5 linked regions of the Homo sapiens genome follow. The protein of the gene in region 2 purifies or fractionates together with the protein of the main gene of each other region. This does not show direct contact. Each region holds a gene or a part of one and is shown on either strand. Other genes may lie near its edges.

Evidence for each region.
Region 1: the proteins of MARCHF6 (region 2) and VAMP7 purify together in Homo sapiens (affinity purification with mass spectrometry, with the first as the bait; one large-scale study listed by BioGRID). This does not show direct contact.
Region 3: the proteins of MARCHF6 (region 2) and SORT1 purify together in Homo sapiens (affinity purification with mass spectrometry, with the first as the bait; one large-scale study listed by BioGRID). This does not show direct contact.
Region 4: the proteins of MARCHF6 (region 2) and FAF2 purify together in Homo sapiens (affinity purification with western blotting, with the first as the bait; one study listed by BioGRID). This does not show direct contact.
Region 5: the proteins of MARCHF6 (region 2) and ACSL4 purify together in Homo sapiens (affinity purification with western blotting, with the first as the bait; one study listed by BioGRID). This does not show direct contact.

The regions. Positions count from the first base shown.
Region 1 is NC_000023.11:155,894,398-155,898,502, reverse strand, and holds part of VAMP7 (vesicle-associated membrane protein 7), read right to left. Parts: intron 2,881-4,105; coding exon 2,823-2,880; intron 392-2,822; coding exon 254-391; intron 1-253. UniProt on the Homo sapiens protein: Involved in the targeting and/or fusion of transport vesicles to their target membrane during transport of proteins from the early endosome to the lysosome. Required for heterotypic fusion of late endosomes with lysosomes and homotypic lysosomal fusion.
Region 2 is NC_000005.10:10,408,767-10,412,871, forward strand, and holds part of MARCHF6 (E3 ubiquitin-protein ligase MARCHF6), read left to right. Parts: intron 1-1,372; coding exon 1,373-1,510; intron 1,511-2,566; coding exon 2,567-2,771; intron 2,772-4,105. UniProt on the Homo sapiens protein: Endoplasmic reticulum membrane-associated E3 ubiquitin ligase that plays a critical role in mitigating endoplasmic reticulum stress, the regulation of cholesterol and lipid homeostasis, and ferroptosis.
Region 3 is NC_000001.11:109,327,915-109,332,019, reverse strand, and holds part of SORT1 (sortilin isoform 1 preproprotein), read left to right. Parts: intron 1-4,105.
Region 4 is NC_000005.10:176,486,133-176,490,237, forward strand, and holds part of FAF2 (FAS-associated factor 2), read left to right. Parts: intron 1-222; coding exon 223-357; intron 358-2,818; coding exon 2,819-2,895; intron 2,896-4,105. UniProt on the Homo sapiens protein: Plays an important role in endoplasmic reticulum-associated degradation (ERAD) that mediates ubiquitin-dependent degradation of misfolded endoplasmic reticulum proteins.
Region 5 is NC_000023.11:109,723,085-109,727,189, forward strand, and holds part of ACSL4 (long-chain-fatty-acid--CoA ligase 4), read right to left. Parts: intron 1-4,105. UniProt on the Homo sapiens protein: Catalyzes the conversion of long-chain fatty acids to their active form acyl-CoA for both synthesis of cellular lipids, and degradation via beta-oxidation. Preferentially activates arachidonate and eicosapentaenoate as substrates.

The sequences.
Region 1 (4,105 bases), on a different chromosome or scaffold from region 2:
AGATGATCTTTAATGCTCTTCCAATCATGAGACACTGTGACCACTATTAATAGAGATAATAAAGACTATCACTGTTTTCTACCCTAAAATGGCCCCTTTACATTTTTTTTTTAATCAGGGAAGTTTTATTATGTTGGCTTACAGTAACACAATCAGAAAACTATATTGCAGGTCAGGGCCCCCTAGATTCATAGTGTTTGAAGGTAATGAAGAAGATATAAATCAAAATACCTTATCCTGAGAAAGATCTTACCAGCTGTGCAGCTAAGACACTTGAGAACTCGCTATTCATGGCATATGGAAGTGCTGTCTGTGCTCTTGAACCGTAAGTAGTCTGGAACCTCTTCTTTATCTCATTCAGAAAATTAAAGGCTCGGGAACGTTCAAAATCCTGAAAAGAGATCAACACAGAACTCACATTTAGAAAGTAAACAAAGATGATGTGAGTGATTAAGAACAACAATAAAAAACAGCTAACATTTACTGAGCAATGATTATCTGAGGAGGAACTAGCATTGATCCTATCTTAAAGATAAGTAAAGGAAGGCTCTGAAAAAGTAACTAACTTGTCCAAAGGTCCAACAACTAGTAAATGAAAGAGCTGAGAATGAATCCAGATATATCTGGTCATTGACAACTGAAGATAATGATACCTAGGTTATCAACTTCTTGACATCAGGAATTGAATTTTACTTCCTCCATATATTTCATAAGATCTATTAGAAGGCCCAGCACAAGAATATGTTTAATAAATCCCATAATAATCATAGAGTCTTTCACACATACAGATACTACTACTGATATTAACTTCAAATCGAATTTTTTCAATAGTGGTGGTATATTTGAAAAGATCAAGTGACATACTCATGTCTAATCCCAGCCAGCCAAAAAGTATGTGTGTTCTCTGTAAGAATACCTTAGAGGAAAAAAATGAATGTGTGTATGTGTGTTTATGTATACATGTATATGTGTGTATCAAATTATAGCTCAAGAAATATGAGGCTCGACTCTAACTATCCCAGATTTCATTAGTATTTTCCTTCTATTCCAAGCTGTTTCACATCAGTCATTTCACATATAGCTAGATTTTTTCGTACTTTTGGAAAATATTGTGAAGCCAGAGATAAAAATCATTGTGATGATCACTATGGTTGACAGTCATTTCCCTTTCACCCAAGATGCTTAGTCTAAGCCAAGGGTTCTTAAATTGGGGTCAATGGTCCAAATTCAAGGGGCCTTTGAACTTGGATAGAAAAAAAGAAAATCACATCATTATTTTTATCAATCGTTAACTTATATTTCAATTGTGAATATAGGTTGTATATTCATAATCGGGGTAGTATTAAACAGTACCTGTAACTGTCACCAACAGAAATCTTTTTTTGTATACCATCACAGTTACAGATATCTCAAAATACTGTCAACACCCATCACATCAAGACTATTAGTTATTAGACCTATGACTAGATCTTGTTAATGAGTTCATAAAGAAGCATATATATTACTACATCAAGTTTTTAAAATATTTTGAATACTATATATATATATATTTCAATATAATTGGCTTTGTTAGAATTGTGTGTGTTTTATACATTTAAAAGCATTCTGGAAAAGGAAAATTAAAAAAAGAAAACAAAAACATTCTGGGAGTGTCCCACAAGTGACGAGTCTGTGATACAATAAAGATTAGGAACCCTGATCTATGGCAACCATGCCAATTCCAAGTCTCTTTGCCAGTAGGCAGTTTAGAAATGAGCATGCAGCCAATAAGACATGAAAGGAAGTTCACTTTGAAAGCAGGGGGAGGGGAGGGCATGCAGCTGGGAAAAGCTTCCTCATTCCTACAATAAGACACTCAAGAAGACACAGTCCCTCTACTCCGGACATGAATAAATAAGTATGTAGCTCTACGAAACCATAATGGCAACCTGTCTGGGAAGAAGGAGACACGGAGATAAGCAGAGAAGAGAAAGGACCTTAATGACATCATTAAGTTACTGAGAATTTTGGGCTGAGAGCCGACAAACAGTCATACCTAACCAATGTAAACTACAGGTTTATATAGCTGATCATAATGTATTGTAATTTTGTTTTTCCAAAGTTCACATACATTAAAGGATTCATTAACTACTGATAGAAGAAATGATGCTATCTAATTTAACATTCCACGTAAACAATTTTTGAGAGGTTTTGATATCAAAGAATTATAATTATGAACATCAATTCTCACTACAAAATAGAATAAATATAGAAGTTGCAAGAGGCTAAGCTAAAACTCTACCAAAATTGAGTTGATTTGCACATACCCCAGTATCAAGTTTTCTTAACATTTGCTGCTCTATATGACAAATGCAAAATATTAACAATTCCAGCTATGTAAAGTTCGCATCACGTTTGCCCACTATAGGTACAGATCAGCAGTCCCCAACCTTTTTGGCACCAGGGACCGGTTTTGTAGAAGACAATTTTTCCAAGGACTGGGGGAGGGTGAATGGTTTCGGGATTAAACTGTTCCACCTCAGATCATCAGGCATTAGATTCTCCTAAGGAGCATGCAATTTAGATCCCTCGGATGCAGAGTTCACAACAGGGTTCACACTCATATGAGAATCTAATGCTGCTGCTGATCTGACAGGAGGCAGAACTCAGGTGGTAATGCTCATAGGCCACTCACCTCCTGCTATGTGGCCTGGTTCCTAACAAGCCACAGACCTGTACCGGTCTGCAGCCTGGGGGTTGGGGACCCCTGGTATAGATAATTAAGAACTGGCTGTATTAACAGTACACATAGTTAAATAGCAATATGTCTTCAAGTTACTTACATCATCAGTGATACAAAGATATACAATCCTGTCTTGGCAGATGTAATGAAACAAATAACTGTAGAATAAAAGATATAAAACTTACTGTGGTTATAAGCAACATCACTTTTACTTCTATCTTCTATCTATGTATAAGCACGTTCAGTACTGCCAATGTCACCATATTACTTACGGATACAGTCTCTTCTCCCTCTTCCCCTTCCCAATATACCTGTTTCTTTCAAGTCAAACTGATAGAAGTACATAAGAAATAAAAAGATCTCTATTCTAGCTACATAGCACAACAGCATGTGTATTACCCATTAGAACGATAGCTGCAAAAGCATAATTGGACTCTTAAAGCATGAACAAGAGATGACATCTTAGGAGGAGGATGTAATTAAGATTAACCCCCAATAGGCCATATGGTTTTCTTTGCTTTTTCCTAAGTTCTTAAAGCAAACATCTTTTCTACCAAATTCTCAACATTTGAGTATCCACTTTGAGTTAGTTACTGTGCTGGATGCTGAGGATACAAAAAAGCAAAACCACCAAGTCCCAGTCTTCATAGGGATCACAGTGTAAGGAATTACAGTGCAGCATGGCAAACAGGATGACAGGAAAGTTAAAGGCAGTACATGGTGCTCTGGGGACACATTAATAGATGAGGCACGAAATGGAGATTTGCCAAAGGGTAACCAGAAAGACTTCCCAGAACAAGTGATGTCTGATTTAAGACCTGAAGAATAAGTAACAGATGGCAAGGTAAAGAGTGAGCGAAAGGCCAGGCGTGGTGGCTGGCTCATGCCTGTAATCCTAGCACTTTGGGAGGCTGAGGCGGGCAGATCGCTTGAGCTCAGGAGTTCAAGACCAGCCTGGGCAACATGGCAAAACCCCGTCTGTACACAAAATACAAAAATTAGCCAGGTGTGGTGGCACACGCCTATAGTCCCAGCTACTTGGGAGGCTGAGGCAGGAGGATCGCTGGAACCCAGGAGGTTGAGGCTGTAGTAAGCTGAGATTGCGCCACTGCACTCCAGCCTGGGTAACAAAGTGAGACCTTGTTTCAAAAAACAACAACAACAAAAAAAAGTGAGCAAAGAGTTTTTCCAGAGAGGAAGCAGCAAGCATAAGGGCCTAGAGGTAAAACAGCACCTAATAGATTTAGGAAAGTAAAATTGGCTCACATGACTAGAGTACAGAATGTGAAGAAAAAGTGAATTATCTGGACAGACAAGACTGGAGAAGTAAGCAAAAACCAGGTTATACAAGACTTTATAAACCACACTGTGCATTATCCTAAG
Region 2 (4,105 bases):
GAGCTTGAACCATCTGCCTGCCTCAGCCTCCCAAAATGTTAGGATTACAGGCATGAGCCACTGTGCCTGGCCATCATTCCATCCTTTAAAATTGTCTTCATCGTTGTATTTCTTTTTATAGCATTTGTTACATTACTTTACAAATATGTATTGTTTTATCCCAGATGGCAGAAATCATGTCTTATTTAGGTCTTTTTCTCTCTGTCTCTCTTTTTTTAATTTAAAAAAATATTTTGTGGAGACAGGGTCTGACTATATTGCCCAGGCTGGTCTTGAATTCCTGGCCTCAAGCAATCCTTCCACTTTGGTCGCCCAAAGTGCTGGGATTATAGGTGTGAGCCACTGCGCCCAGCCTCTTATTTGGATCTTAATGCTTTGCATAGGAACATGATTGTTCAAAAATAAAAGGTTTACTCTACACATAGTAAAATCTCAAATTTGTATTTTATTAAATTAGAATTGGAAAATACTTATATCCTGATTATTTAAAGTGGCAGAAAAAATGCCAGTAAGGGTATAGAAAGTGGGCAGGATGGGGTTACAATTTAGGAATAGTGACTGGTAAAGACCTGAGGGGGTGACAGTTGAGGAAAGCCCTGAAGGAGTTGAGAGAGTGAGCCACGTGGATCCCTGAAGGCAGAATATTCTTGCAGAAAGTAGGTGCAGTGGCACCCAGGTCTGTTTGAGGATCTGCAGGGAGGCAAGTTTGTCTGTAGTAGGAGGAGGAAGGCAAAGAATTGGCCCTGAAGTCAGAAAGGTCATGGAGAGCCACCTCCTAGAGAGTCTTACACGACATAAGCACTTTGGCTTTTGCTTGAGTGAATTGAGGAGCTCTTGGAAAGCTTTGAGCAAAGGAGTGATCTAACTTAGGTTTAAAGAGGATCATTCTGACTGCTGTGATGAGAGGAAACTGGGTTGGAGTGGCTAGGTCAGAAACAGGAAGCCAGCTGGGAGGATAATGCAATGATCCTGGTGAGAGGTGAGGGTGGCAGAGATGAAGGGGAGGTAGCAGTGGAGGCCTTGAGAAATTTTTAGGATATTGTTAAGGTACAGTCAAAAGGATTCTCTAGCTGTTTGGATGTGAGGTGTCAAAGGAAGGAGTGACCTTTTGTGTAACATGCTACTAATATAGCAAGTGAGGAGAGAACCAAGACCTACCCATCAGTTTAGCAAAATGAAAGTCTTTGGTGACCCTTATCAGAAACAATTTGGTGGAGTTTGTGGGGAAAGCCTCACTGAGTTGGAGAGAGAATGAAAGGAGAGGTAATAAAGACAGTAAGTTTATTAGATTCTTAAGAAGTTGCGTTGTAATCCCATTAAATAGTAGTCATATGCAAAATACAATTCACATTATAAATCCTGCCTCTTTCAGTGATGCTCCAGTGAGTGAACTGTCCCTCGAGCTGCTTCTGCTTCAGGTTGTCTTGCCAGCATTACTCGAACAGGGACACACGAGGCAGTGGCTGAAGGGGCTGGTGCGAGCGTGGACTGTGACCGCCGGATACTTGCTGTGAGTATGGGCAGCTGACTCCTTGGACATGCATGTCATTTGTGACTATGGAATAACCTTTCTGGAAAAAGTATGTTCCATGGCCCACTCAAGAAAAATTAGTTTTAATAAGAGACAATTTAGTAATATTTGCAATTGCATATAATACTTCTAAATGAAATTTTTTTTTCTTATTGTCCATCCTTTCATGGAGAATATATACATCTTTTTGCCCTCTTATAGAAGTTTGCTGCTGGTCCAGCTTTCATGGAGTAAATGTCTTTTTTTTTTTTAGTGCATTAAAAACAAACCAGTTTACCTTTATTTAGACCAACTAACTTACCTTTATTTAGTGCTCATAACCTGGGAAATGGGTTCTTCTCAAATTTGATTTCTCAATCTTCTAGTGAACATGTTGCATTTTTTTCCCCAAGCTTTATATACTCTATATTTATTTAAAAGTTGAATCTTTAAAAGTTTTTCAGTTTGGCATCTTGTAGGTATCTTAAAGGTGAAGTACAGATTTGGTTATATTTGCTTGAACATCTGTCGTCCTCTAACTGCTTCCTCCCCCAGTCTCATTTCTGACCTAACTGATTTATAGCTTGGAGGTTTTACAAATTTATAGCTTGTAGCTACATGTTGCAGTAGTCATCTGTAGAGAAGATAAGAAGTTTTTCTTTTCCTCCTGTAGATCCTTAACAATATTGTACATTGTAAGTATGTACTTACACCTTGTGCTTGTAAGTACTTACCTCTTGTACTTACAAGTGTACTTGTAAGTATCTTGTACATTGTACTTTTTTCTTTCAGTTACTGATTTCTTCTCAGATACTGGCTGAAGAAAACGTAAAATAGGTTGAATTTATGGGATATCCTACAAGTTCATTAACATTAGAAAGGTTTGATTTAAAGTGGGTACAAACATTTAGACCAAAATTAGGTAATAATGTGGTGCACAAATTCTGTATTATACATTTTCTACCCTTAGTAGTAAATATGAAGAAAATGAGTGTCATGTCTGCCATTTTATTGTGACCTGAAGTGAGACTTGTTACTGATGTAATTTTTGCACAGGGATCTTCATTCTTATTTATTGGGAGACCAGGAAGAAAATGAAAACAGTGCAAATCAACAAGTTAACAATAATCAGCATGCTCGAAATAACAACGCTATTCCTGTGGTGGGAGAAGGCCTTCATGCAGCCCACCAAGCCATACTCCAGCAGGGAGGGCCTGTTGGCTTTCAGCCTTACCGCCGACCTTTAAATTTTCCACTCAGGGTAGGTGCTATACAGACTTAATCACATATAGAGGTTTTTTTGGTTTTTTTGTTCTCCAAATTGCTGTTGAGAATTGGTGCTATTAGTATGCAGTCCTCTGTGTAGACATGTTCCACATTTTATTACCCTCATTATGTAACGTAAATGATTAGGTAAGTTTATCAAATTTTAGAGATAAGTCAAAGAGTTGGGATTCCCTGGGCTCTTGCTCCCTATTTAAGAGGAAAAGACTCTAGAGTAATTAAGAAACTAACATTATTGATACATTTCAACAGTGTGTCAGGAACTAGAATGGGCATTTGGATGTTTTCTCATTTAATCTCCACTCAAATACTGCAAAGTGTAGGCGATAATTTCATGTTTATAGCTAAGGAAACTGAAGGCAATATTGGTTAAGAATGTGCCTATTACATGTTCGTTAGCAAGTGATCAATCTTTGTGCACCTCAGAATTTTGTCAGAAATGTAAGCTGATGACTGCTATATGATTACAGTGAAGTCATCATTTATATCAAGTCTGTTATTTTAAAATGCCCTTTAATAATGACATGGGCTTGTGAGTCTGATCATTTTAAAACTTGGGCAGGTTATTTAACCTCTCAGCCTCACATTTCTTTTTTTGTAAAAATAGTCATTATTATACCTTTGTAGATTACTGTGGGTCACATGTGTTCAGTCATTCAGCAAACATGTCTTAAGTGTCTATGATTGATATTTTCAGTGTCTGTGAGGATATAGAGAGCATACGTGGTCTTTGCTCAGAAAGAGCTTACAGTCTACTCAGATGAGAAAGACAGTGGCAGATTTGAGCTCTCATGCTGGTGTTTACAGTGGGTGCTGTGACTCCTTCAATCAAGAACCACTTGTTCTTAATATGGACCCAAAGGAATCTTCCTAGAATAGGTGGTGCCTGAACTGTCTTAAACATTGAGAGACCTGTCAGAGAGTGAAAAAAAGGAAGTGGGAAGGGCATTCCAGGAATATGTCAGGACTAGGGCACATTAGGCATGGTGGGCTTAGAATTGCAGATAAGAGAGTTGTGTTGTTTTGTTTTTGAGACAGGGTCTTGCTCTGTTGCCCAGGCTTGGTTGCAGTGTGCGATCATGGCTCACTGTAGCCTTAACCTCCTGGGTTCAAGCGATCCTCCTACCTACTCAGCCGTCCGATTAGCTGGGACCATGGGTGCATGCCACTACACCTGGCTAATTTTTATATTTTTTGTTGAAATGGAGTTTTGCTATGTAGCCCAGGCTGTTCTCAAACTCCTAGTTCAAGCAGTCTGCCTGCCTCGGCCTCCCAAAGTACTGGAATACAGGTGTAAGCCACTGCGGCTGG
Region 3 (4,105 bases), on a different chromosome or scaffold from region 2:
CATCAATGTTTTGTAGTTTTTAGTCTTTCACCTCCTTGGTTAAATTTATCCCTAAGTTTTTTTTGTTTTTTTTTTTTAAGTTTTTTTCTTGTACTATTGTAGATGAAATTTTCTTGATTTCTTTTTTGGATAGTTTGTTGTTAGTGTATATTGTATTTTTATATGTTGATTTTATATTCTGCAACTTTTTTGAATTTATTAGTTTTAACATTTTTGGTGGAGTCTTTAAAGATTAAGGATTTTTATATATAAGCTCATGTCACCTGCAGACAGACAATTTTACCTCTTTCTTTCTGGTTTGGATGCTTTTTGTTTTTATTTCTTTTTCTTACTTAATTGCTCCAGCTAGGACTTCCATTACTATAATGAACAGAAGTGGTGAGAATGGGCATCTTTGTCTTATTCCTGATCTTAGAGGAAAAGGTTTAGCTTTTGACTGTTTGAGTATGATGTTAGCTGTGGGCTTGTCACATATAGCCTTTATTATGTTGAGGTATATCCCTTTTATACCTAATTTATTGAGAGTTTTTATCATGAATGGGTTTATTATGTTGAGGTATATCCCTTTTATACCTAATTTATTGAGAGTTTTTATCATGAATGGGTGTTGAAATTTGTTAAGTGCTTTTTCTGGATTTATCAAGATGATATGATTTCTATCCTTCATTCTATTAATGTGGCATATCTCATTTATTGATTTGCATATGTTGAACCATCCTTGCATTCCACAGATAGATCCTACTTGATCATGGTATATAATCTGTTTAATATGCTGTTGAATTCAGTTTGTTAGTATTTTGTTGAGAATTTTTGCATCTATGTTCATCAGAGATATTGACCTGTAATTTTGTTTTCTTCTAGTGTCCTTGTCTGGTTTTGGTAGCAGGGTAATACCACCCTTATAAAATGAGTTTGGAAGTGTTCCATTCTCTTCAATTTTTGGAAGAGTTTGAGAAGGATCGGTCTTAATTCTTCTTTGAAGAAAGTTTGCTAGAATTCACCATTGAATCCATCAGGTCCTAGGCTTTTCTTGTTGGGAGGTTTTTGATTACTGATTGAGCCTCCTTACTCATATTAGTATGTTCAGATTTTCTATTTCTTCTTCATGATACAGTCTTGGTAAGCTGTATATGTCTAGAAATTCATCCATTTTTTTCTAGATTATCCAATTTGTTGATGTATAGTTGTTCATAGTAGTCTCTTAGGATCCTTTGTTTTTTCTGTAGTATAAGTTATAATGTCTCCTCTTACATTTCTGATTTTACTTGAGTCTTTTCTTTTTTTCTTATTCTAATTAAAAGTTTGTCACTTTTTTATCTTGTCAAAAAAAACAACTCTAAGTTTCATTGATCTTTCCTGTTATTTTTCTAACTTCTATTTCAGTTATTTCTGCTCTGTTATTATTTCCTCCCTTCTGCTAACTTTGGGCTTAGTTTGTTCTTTTTCTAGTTCCTTGAGGTATAAAGTTAAGATTTTTGAGATTTTTCTTTTTTCTTAATGTAGACATTTATCACCATAAACTTTCTTCTTAGAACTGCTTTTGCTGCATCCCTTAAGTTTTAATATGTTGTGTTTCCCTTTTCATTTGTCTCAAGTTTTTTTTATTTCCCTTTGACTCATTGGTTGTTCAAGAATATGTTGTTCAATTTCCACATTCATGTGAATTTTCCAATTTTCCTCCCTTTACTGATTCTAGTTTCATAATGTTGTAGTTGAAAAGAACTTGAGGCCAGGCACACTGGCTCACGCCTATAATCCTTGCACTTTGGGAGGCTGAGGTGGGTGGATCACGAGGTCAGGAGTTCAAGACCAGCCTGGCCGACTTGGTCTCTACTAAAAATACAAAAAAAAAATAGCTGGGCGTGGCAGCGGGTGCCTTTAATCCCAGCTACTCAGGAGGCTGAGGCAGAGAATTGTTTGAACCCGGGAGGCGGAGCTTGCAGTGAGCCAAGATCACGCCACTGCACTCCAGCCCAGGTGACAGAGTGAGACTCCGTCTCAAAAAAAAAAGAAAGGATACTTGAGGTGATTTCAGTCTTACATTTGTTAAGGCTTGTTTTGTGGCCTAACATATGCACTATCCTGGAGAATATTCTCTGTGCACTTGAAAAGAATGTATATTCTGCTGCTATTGGATAGAATGTTCTGTATATGTCTGTTAGGTCCATTTGTATGGTGTTGTTCAAGTTTGCTCTTTCCTTACTGGTTTTCTGTCTGGATGATCTATCATTGAAAGTAAGTATTGAAGTCCCTTACTATTATTGTATTGTCGTCTACCTCTTTCTTCAGTTCTGTTAATGTTTGCTTTATACATTTAGGTGCTCTAATGTTGAGTGCATTTATATTTACCAATGTTATATGCTCTTGATGAATTGACACCTTTATCATTGTGTGGTAACTTTCTTTATCCCTTGTGATAGTTTTTTACTTAAAGTCTATTTTGTCTGATATAAATATAGCCACCCCCGGCTGGACATGGTGGCTCACGCCTGTAATCCCAGCTCTTTGGGAGACCAAGGCGGGCGGATCACGAGGTCAGGAAATCAAGACCGTCCTCACTAACATGGTGAAACCCTGTCTCTACTAAAAATACAAAAAATTAGCCGGGTGTGGTGGCAGGCGCCTGTAGTCCCAGCTACTTGGGAGGCTGAGGCAGGAGAATGGCATGAACCCAGGAGGCAGAGCTTGCAGTGAGCTGAGATGGCACCACCGCACTCCAGCCTGGGTGGCAGAGCGACACTCCGTCTCAAAAATAAATAAATAAATATAGCCACCCCTGCTCTCTTTTGGCTACCATTTGAGTGGAATATCTTTTTTTTATCTCTACTTTTAGCCTATGTGTCCTCTTACACACATAGGCCTTTACAGATGGCTTCAGCAGGGGAAGCCCTTACCAGGTAGCTCATCCAGAGATTCTTGGGGGGGCAACTGACAGGTTCTGCAGGTAGGTGGGCCTGGTGCCTTGGTCTTTGGGGGTAGCTTGGAGGCTGGGTCCTCTGCGGCAGGCCTGGCAGTGGAATCCACTAGGGTGGACCTTTTAAGTGGGTCTTCAGGTGAAACACCTGGAGCCCGGTAAGTAGATCTGCAGGAGCCAGCCTGGTGCAGGGGTGGGCCCTACCCTGAGCCTGCAGGGGCTGGCCTGATGCAGGGGTCCACTTGGCTGGGTCTGTGAGAGTGGACCTGGAGCCTTTAAGTTTCTTAAAGACAAGACTGGATCTTATTTCGAACCACCATCACATCTTGTACGGTGTCTGAAGTATATCAGGTGCTTATCAAGTTTATTTGTGTAGAGTCAGCCTTTAAACATTGTTCAGAGGCTTTGATGTAATGCAAAAATAAAATAAACGGAGACAGGTTACCCATGAGGAAATATTTGCTTCCAGATATTGTAGTACATTTCAGAATCAAGAGTATGCCACTGAGCTACAACTCAACAACAAACAAATAGCCTGAATAAAAAATAGGCAAAGAACTTGTATAGACATTTCTCCAAACACAATATAGAAGTGACTAACAAGCATATAAAAAGAGGCTCAGCATCACTAATCATTAGGAAAATGCAAGTCAAAACCACAATGAGGTATCTCCTCACACAGATTAGGGTGGCTACTATTTTAAAAAGTGTTGGCAAGGATATGGAGAAATTGGAGCCCTGGTGCACTTTTGGTGAAAATGTAAAATGGTGCAGCTGCTACAGAAAACAGCATAGTAGTTCCTAAAAAAAATTAAAAATAGGATTATCATATCCAGCAATTCCACTTCTGGATTATACATCCAAAAGAGTTGAAAGCAGGTTCTCAAAAAGATATTTGTACAACCATGTACATAGCAACATTATTCATGATAGCCAAAAGGTAGAAGCAACTTGTGTCTATTGACAGATAAATGAGTAAATAAAGTGTGGGGTGTGTGTGGATACAGATACACACACACACTTAAATAATATTTAGCCTTTAAAAGGGAGGAAATTCTGACATATGCTATTAATACAACATGGATGAGCCTTGAGGACATTATGCCAAGTGAAATAAGTCAGACACAAAATGACAAATATTATGTGATTCTACTTATATGAGCTACCTAGAGTAGCCAACACAAAGTAATA
Region 4 (4,105 bases), about 170 Mb from region 2:
AAGTTTCCTCGTCTCCTCTACCATGGATGCATTCTGGAGTGACAACTCCAGTTGCCTCCAAGTACAGCCGGTTAACAGGCCCATGAAGGTGCACTCCTCAGTGACCTTTTGGTGTATTCATGACCATCCTGTTTTGGAATACCACGCAATAGTTGCCTCACCTCTTGTTGTTGGTTGATTTGAGCATCGCTGAAACTCTTGCCACTCCGTTTTCCTTCTCAGGCTGCTGTACAGGACAGATTGAATGAGCAAGAGGGCGTACCTAGTGTTTTCAACCCACCTCCATCACGACCCCTGCAGGTTAATACAGCTGACCACAGGATCTACAGCTATGTTGTCTCAAGACCTCAACCAAGGGCAAGTTATTTCATAGCTGGGATTTCCCCCTTTTTTATTTATAAGTATATCCACTTGGTTATATTGATCTCCCTGTGACAGGAGCAAAACAAATATTTAGAATGTAAACCTGTTAGTTAGACTTGGCCCGTTGGGTGTATTATTTTGCCTTGATTCCTCAAGGAATTGTTACAGAAACTACTCATTTTTTTTTTCTTTTCTTTGCCAGTTATTTGGAGAGTGTTTTCTGCCTCTTAAGTTACAATTTGTTTACTCAAGTTCTTTGTTGCTTCAGTTTACTTAATCTTAAACCAGTTTTGAGGAAGTATATGGAATCTTTGTAGGAGCTTTGGCCACGTCTTTGAAATTAGCCTTGAAGGGCTAGTAGCAAGGAGGTGGTTCACTTAAATTTGACAGACATTTAAGAGTACTCCAATAACCTGGTATCTTGCTACTAGGGATCCAGACATGAATAAAGAGCCAGTCTTCCCATTTCAAATTCAATTTCTCACAGTCTATTGAAGGAAGTCAGATGTGTACACTGATAATGAATTCTAAAGAACTGCTTGGACTTTCTTTTTCTTACCCCTGGGGTTATACTCACCTCTTATACTTTTATACTTGCATTTAGAATCCTAAGAAAACACTCCCTTTAACATTGCAGCAGTTAGAATTTACTCCATCATCAAGCCTTTTTGTGGAGTACTTGATTTTTGTTGTGTTTTGTTCTGTTTGAGACAGGGTCTCACTCTGTCGCCCAGCCTGGAGTGCAGTGGCATGATCTTGGCTCGCTGCAGCCTAGACCTCCCGGGCTCAAGCAGTCCTCCACCTCAGCCTCCTAAGTAGCTGGGACTACAGGTGTGCGCCACCATCCTGGTTAATTTTTGTATTTTTTGTAGAGATGGGGTCTTGCTATGTTGCCCAGGCTGGTCTTGAACTCCTGAGCTCAAGTTATCTGCCCACCTCAGCCTCCCAAAGTGCTGGAATTACAGGCTTGAGGCACTGTGCCTGGCCTACTTGATGTTTTAAAACATGTTTCTAAGTAGTGCTCTGTGGTTTTCTGAAGTACAGTAGCAGATTCCCATGTCAGCCATGGGGCTCCAGAGCTTCCTGGCCACAGACACAGAAAGTGTCTCAGGTTAACACAATGTGACAACTATGAAATGCTTTATAAACTATAGAGCCCTGGATGTATGCTAGTTTTAATAATTAATAACAGCAATAATAATTAGCATTATTACTAAGATAAGCAGCTATATGGGGATTTGTCATTGTGGTTAATATAATTATTTAATGTTTATATACCAATGTCCAAGGTTAGTAATAGTGATTATCTTTCTTGCTATTTCTATATACATTATTTTAGGTTTTTATGTTTGTTTGTTTTGTTTTGGGACAGAATCTCCCTCTGTTGCCCAGGCTGGAGTGCAGTGGTGTGATCTCAGCTCACTGCAACCTCAGCTTCCCAGGTTCAAGCGATTCTCCTGCCTCAGCCTCCTGAGTAGCTGGGATTACAGGCGCCCACCACCGCGTCTGGCTAATTTTTGTATTTTTAGTAGAGACAGGGTTTCACCATGTTGGCCAGGCTGGTCTCAAACTCCTGACCTCAAGTGATCTGCCTGCCTTGGCTTCCCAAATTGCTGGGAGTACAAGTGTGAGCCACCACACCCAGCTAATTTTTGTATTTTTAGTAGAGACAGGGTTTTACCATGTTGACCAGGCTGGTCTCGAACTCCTGACCCCAGGTGATCCATCCGCCTCAGCCTCCCAAAGTGTTGGGATTACAGGCGTGAGCCACCAAGCCTGGCTTATTTCTGTATACCATATTTTGATGTGTAAATCTAAAAAGGAAAGAATGAGTGTGTATCATTTGGGGAACATTAATTTGCAATTGAATTTGACAAGTCTATAAGTAGCTGCCAAAAATAAGTATTAAGGCAGTTTTGGTTTTTATTTGTTTGTTTGTTTTTTTGAGACAGAATCTTGCTCTGCCCCCAGGCTGGAGTTCAGTGGCGCGATCTCAGCTCACTGCAACCTCCGCCTCCTGGGTTTAAGCAATTTTCCTGCCTCAGCCTCCCTGAGTAGCTGGGACTACAGGTGCATGCCACCATGCCTGGCTAATTTTTGTATTTTTAGTAGAGATGGGATTTCACCGTGTTGGCCAGGCTGGTCTCAAACTCCTGACCTCAGGTGATCTGCCCCACTCAGCCTCCCAAAGTGCTGGGATTACAGGCAGGAGATACAGCTCTGGACCTTAAAGCAGATTTAATACAAAAATTCTGCAAAAAAAAATGATAGTAAGATGAAATAAGACCAAAGATGGTGGCACTTAGAAGGATGAGGTGGCCAGGAAGAAGGAACTGTACTTTAGAGGAACAAATCACATGGAAGGACCAAAAAGAGTGAGAAAATCTGACCTAGCCATTTGATAAAATATTAGGGATTGAGAGAATTGTCTCTAACTTTGTTTTTGGACTTTCAGGGGCTGCTTGGATGGGGTTATTACTTGATAATGCTTCCATTCCGGTTTACCTATTACACGATACTTGATATATTTAGGTATGTACCTTTGGATTTATGTATTAGTAGAATAGTAAGACTTTGGAGCTGAAATTTAGGCCAAAATAAGCTTTATGCTCTATCAATGTTGACTTACCAATTTGTCATGAGATGGAATACACTTCCCGAACTGTCTTTTAATACAACATACAAGTATTTTAAATTGTTGAAGCATTGGCAGGCATTGTGAAATGGAATTGTTTTTAAATTAGTCTTACCTTTTGTTTGCAAAAACCAGTCTGACTATATTTATTTGTCTCCCCCTCCCCCCCCCACCATATTTGTCACCTCTACACTTCCTAGTTGATGTCCACACCCTTTCCTTTCTAACCACTATCATCTCCTAGCTTCACACTCCTTAGAACTTTCTTCCTCAACTACTTCTCCTCCACCTGACTACTCACAATCCCAACAAATTCTCTTGCTCTGAGATTACCCAGTTTGCCCTTGATTCCTCCCACAATAGTTGGACCTCCCTAGACACTCCTGTTACACCTTTTCTTTCTTTTTCTTTCTTTTTTTGAAACAGAGTCTTGCTCTGTCGCTGTCACCCAGGCTAGAGTGCAGTGCCACCATCTCGACTCACTGCAACCTTCACCTCCTGGGTTCAAGCGATTCTCATACCTCAGCCTCCCAGATAGCTGGGATTACAAGCATGCGCCACCACGCCTGGCTAATTTTTGTATTTTTAGTAGAGACAGTAGAGATGGAGTCTCATTTTGTTGGCCAGGCTGATCTTGAGCTCCCGGCCTCAAGTGATCCACCTGCCTTGGCCTCCCGAAGTGCTGGGATTGCTGGCATGAGCCACCATGCCTGGCAGCTTCGGTACCTTTTCACTTTGCTCTGGCAGCCCCTAGGTTGCAAACACTGGAACCCTTTTATGTATATACCCACTTGCTTCATACCTTCACCTTTCTTCTAGCTTCCTTCATGTACCATTAAAAGAGCTCATCATTGGAAGCTACAGAGGGTCCAAGGCCAGAAAATGAGTGGGGCTCAACTGGCCGGGCTCTGTGGCTCACGCCTGTAATCCCAGCACTTTGGGAGGCTGAGGTGGGCGGATCACAACGTCAGGAGATCAAGACCATCCTGGCTAATACGGTGAAACCCTGTCTCTACTAAAAATACAAAAAATTAGCCGGGCGCGGTGGCTGGTGCCTGTAGTCCCAACTACTCAGGAGGCTGAGGCAGGAGAATGGCGTGAACCCGG
Region 5 (4,105 bases), on a different chromosome or scaffold from region 2:
TTTTTTTAAAAACCTGAGTGTTCAGTACAAGGCATTAATTACATTTACAGTAGAGTGTTGTTGTAGAATGAAGGAATCCTATTATAAGCATCCTCCAGTGTGCAAATGTTTAATATTAGTAATCTGCATACCTACTATCAAAATAGTAATTGTATTTTGCTATAATAGTAATCTGCATACCTACTATCAAAATTGTAATTGTAAATTATAATATATAATATAGAATTGTACAGAGAAAAAGTAAAACTATACTGCCCTCCTCTAACACCACTCTCTTTTCCTCTAGGGATAATTACTCTTGATGTGTATCAATCAGATTGTTTTGTATTACCCATACACATGATAAGGGTTTATTTTTAGATAAGTGGAATTATGGTATACAACTGTTCTTTGACTCCCTCCCCCTCTCTTCCCCTGCTTAACAGCATACTTTGGAACTCCTATGTCAGTGTATATATATGTCTAACCAAGAGGCTTTTCTTCTTTTTTTATTTAATAACTCAATGGTATTCCACAGTATAACTTACCATTATTTAAATCATTCCCTACTGATGGATATTTAGGATACTGCCAAATTTTCACAGTTACAAACAGTTTCACTGCAGCGAAACCTTATACATAGTTTTATACACATGTAATATTTCCCTAGAATTGTTTTCTAATAAAACTATTGGGTCAAAATGTATGCACATTTAAAAATGAGATGATTTTGGTATTCTTCAGCAAAGAGTTATACATGTGAACTCTCATTAACAGTGTATGCAAATGCCTATTTGTTAAAAGTGGATATTAAGTTCTTGCCAATCTGTCTGGTGAAAAACGGTTTACATTTCCCTAATAACCAGAGTCAATTTGAACATCTTTTCTTTTTTATTCACCAGTACTTCTTTTCCTGGGAAATGCCCATGTATAATCTTCTGCCACTTTTTGCTTTTTGTAGTGGGTACCTTTCTCTTATTGATCTTTAGGAGCTCTTTATATATTATGGATATTATGCAGTAGAAACCCTTTTATCTAATGTGATTTAGAACAATTGGTTATGTAATTTAAAAGGTTAATTTCAGGTAAACGATCATAAAAATATGTATGGCAAACATTTCACCTTCCTTTCATCAGTGGTATATATATACTCATTCAACAAACTTTGTGTGTGTGTGGTTTTGGTTTATTTATTTTTGGGGGGCTTTTTTGTTTTTTTGTTTGTTTCTGAGACAGGGTTTTGCTCTGATGCCCAGGCTGGAATGCAGTGGAGTGACCTTGGATCGCTGCAACCTCTGCCTCCCGGGCACAAGCTATCCTCCTGCCACAGCCTCCCAAGTATCTGGGACTACAGTTGTGCATCACCATGCCTGGCTAATTTTTGTTTTTGTTTTTTTGAGACAAGGTCTCACTCTGTCACCCAGGGTGGAATGCAATGACGTGAGTGATCATAGTTCACTACAACCTCCACCTACTGGGCTCAAGCAATCCTCCCACCTCAGCTTCCCCAGTAGTTGGAACCATAGGCACATGGCACCATGCCCAACTAAATTTTTGTATTTTTTGGGCTAGGCGTGGTGGCTCACGCCTGTAGTCTCAGCACTTTGGGAAGCTGAGGCAGGCAGATCACTTGAGGTCAGGAGTTTGAGACCAGCCTGGCCAACATGGCGAAACCTCATCTCTACTAAAAATACAAAAATTAGCCGGGTGTGGTGGTGGGCACCTGTAATCCCAGCTACTCGGGTGGCTGAGGCAGAAGAATCGCTTGAATCTGTGAGACGGAGGTTGTAGTGAGCCGAGATCATGCCACTGCACTCCAGCCTGGGCGACAGAGCGAGATTCCGTCTCAATAATAATAATAATAAAAATTTTCTGTAGAGATGGGGTTTCACCATGTTGCCCAGGCTGGTCTCAAACTCCTGGCCTCAAGAGATCTGCCTGCCTTGGCCTTCCAAAGTGCTGGGATTACAGGCATGACGCACTGTACCTGACCTGGGGTTTTTTTTGTTTTTGTTTTGTTTTGTTTTTTTATTTAAAGACAGGATCTCACTCTGTCTCCCAGGTTGGAATGCAGTGGTGTGATCATGACTCACTGCAACCTTGAACTCCTGGCCTCAAGCAATCCTCCTGTCTCAGCCTCCTGAGTGACTGGGGACTACAGGTGTGTGCCACCACACCCAGCTATTTTTTTTTTTTTTTTTTGAGACAGGGTCTTGCTATGTTGCTCAGGCTGGTCTTGAACTGGCTTCAAGCAATCCTCCTGCTTTGGCCCCCTAAAATGTTGGGATTACAAGCATGAGCCACCATGCCAGCCTCAAACTTTCTATATGGGGCCAAGAGGCCAAGACCTTTTTCTCTAACTCCAGGCCCATTGATTTTACATTTGACAAGTAATGTGAGTATAAAACCCTTTTAGATGGCTGGTGCGGTGGCTCACACCTATAACCCCAGCACTCTGGGAGGCCAAGGCGGGCGGATCACGAGGTCAGGAGATCGAGACCATCCTGGCTAACACGGTGAAACCCTGTCTCTACTAAAAATACAAAAAAATTAGCCAGGTGTGGTGGAGGGCGCCTGTAGTCAGGAGAATGGCGTGAACCCGGGAGGTGGAGCTTACAGTGAGCCGAGATCACGCCACTGCACTCCAGCCTGGGCAAAAGAGCGAGACTCCATCTCAAAAAATAAAATAAAATAAAATAAAATAAAACTCTTTTAGATTTTTATATTTTTTCCACGTATCTTGTATAGTCATCTTACCCACATTTAAGCGGACAGTATTTTTTTTTGCAACTTGTTTTCATTAACTCTTCTCAAAACAATTTGTTTCATCATAATGAATCTAATGTAACCATCACCCAGCTTCAACAGTTATTCATATGTGCTGAATTGTGTTTCTTCCATACTACCCACAACCCACCTCCATCCCTCACCCCTTGTATAATGTTAAGCAAATCCCAGACATCATATTATTTCATTTGTAAATTTTCAGTAAAAAGAACTCCAATCTCCCCCACTCATATATTGTCAGGTTACAACATATTAAACAAATTACCTTTTAAAAACAAATACAAGCAGGCTTAGCACGGTGGCTCACGCCTGTAATCCCAGCATTCTGGGAGGCTGAGGCAAGTGGATCACCTGAGGTCAGGAGTTCAAGACCAGCCTGGCCAACATGGCAAAACCCCGTCTCTACTAAAAATACAAAAAAAATTAGCCAGGCATGGTGGTGGGCACCTATAATCCCAGCTACTCGGGAGGCTAAGGCAGGAGAATTGCTTGAACCCAGGAGGCAGAGGTTGCAGTGAGCCGAGATTGCACCATTGCACTCCAGCCTGGGCAACAAGAGCAAAACTCCATCTCAAAAACAAACAAACCAACCAACAAACAAAAAAACAAATACAACCAACATATACAGGTTTAGTAGTAAAAAAATTTACTGTACTGGTAGGTAAACAAGCACGCTGGAGTACTGGAGATCAACCAACTAATACCAAGTATTCAGTGTACACTGTATTTTACAAAGGAAATAAAAATTATTCAATGTGGTGAGTCAATTAAGTGGAGGTCAATTAAAGCTTCTAATGCATATGTAGAAGCTTTTTCATTTTTATTTATTTTATTTATTTATTTTTTGAGACAGGGTCTCGCTCTATCACCCAGGCCAGAGTGCAGTGGTGCAATCATAGCTCTCTGCAGCCTCGACCTCCCAGGCTCAAGGGATCCTCCCACTTCAGCCTCTGGAGTAGCAAAGACTACAGGCACATGCCACCATGCCTGGCTTTTTTTGTTGTTTTTTGTTGTTGTTGTTGTTGTTTTGTTTTTTTTGTTTTTTTTTTAGAGACAGGGTCTCACTATGTTGTCCAGGCTGGTCTCAAACTCCTGGGCTCAAGCAATCTTCCCACCTTGGCCTCCCAAAGTGCTGGGATTATAGGCGTGAGCTGCAGTGCCCGGCCATCACTTGTCTTTTTAACTGGGTTATGATGTCTTACACTTTCCAGAAGATTTTTTAAAATATATACTTAGATTTTTAAAATATATTCTTAAGTTATTTTTGTGTATGATGAGAGATGGAGACTTATTACTTTCTAAATACACAGCCACCTGTCTTTACTCAATTTCCATTTTC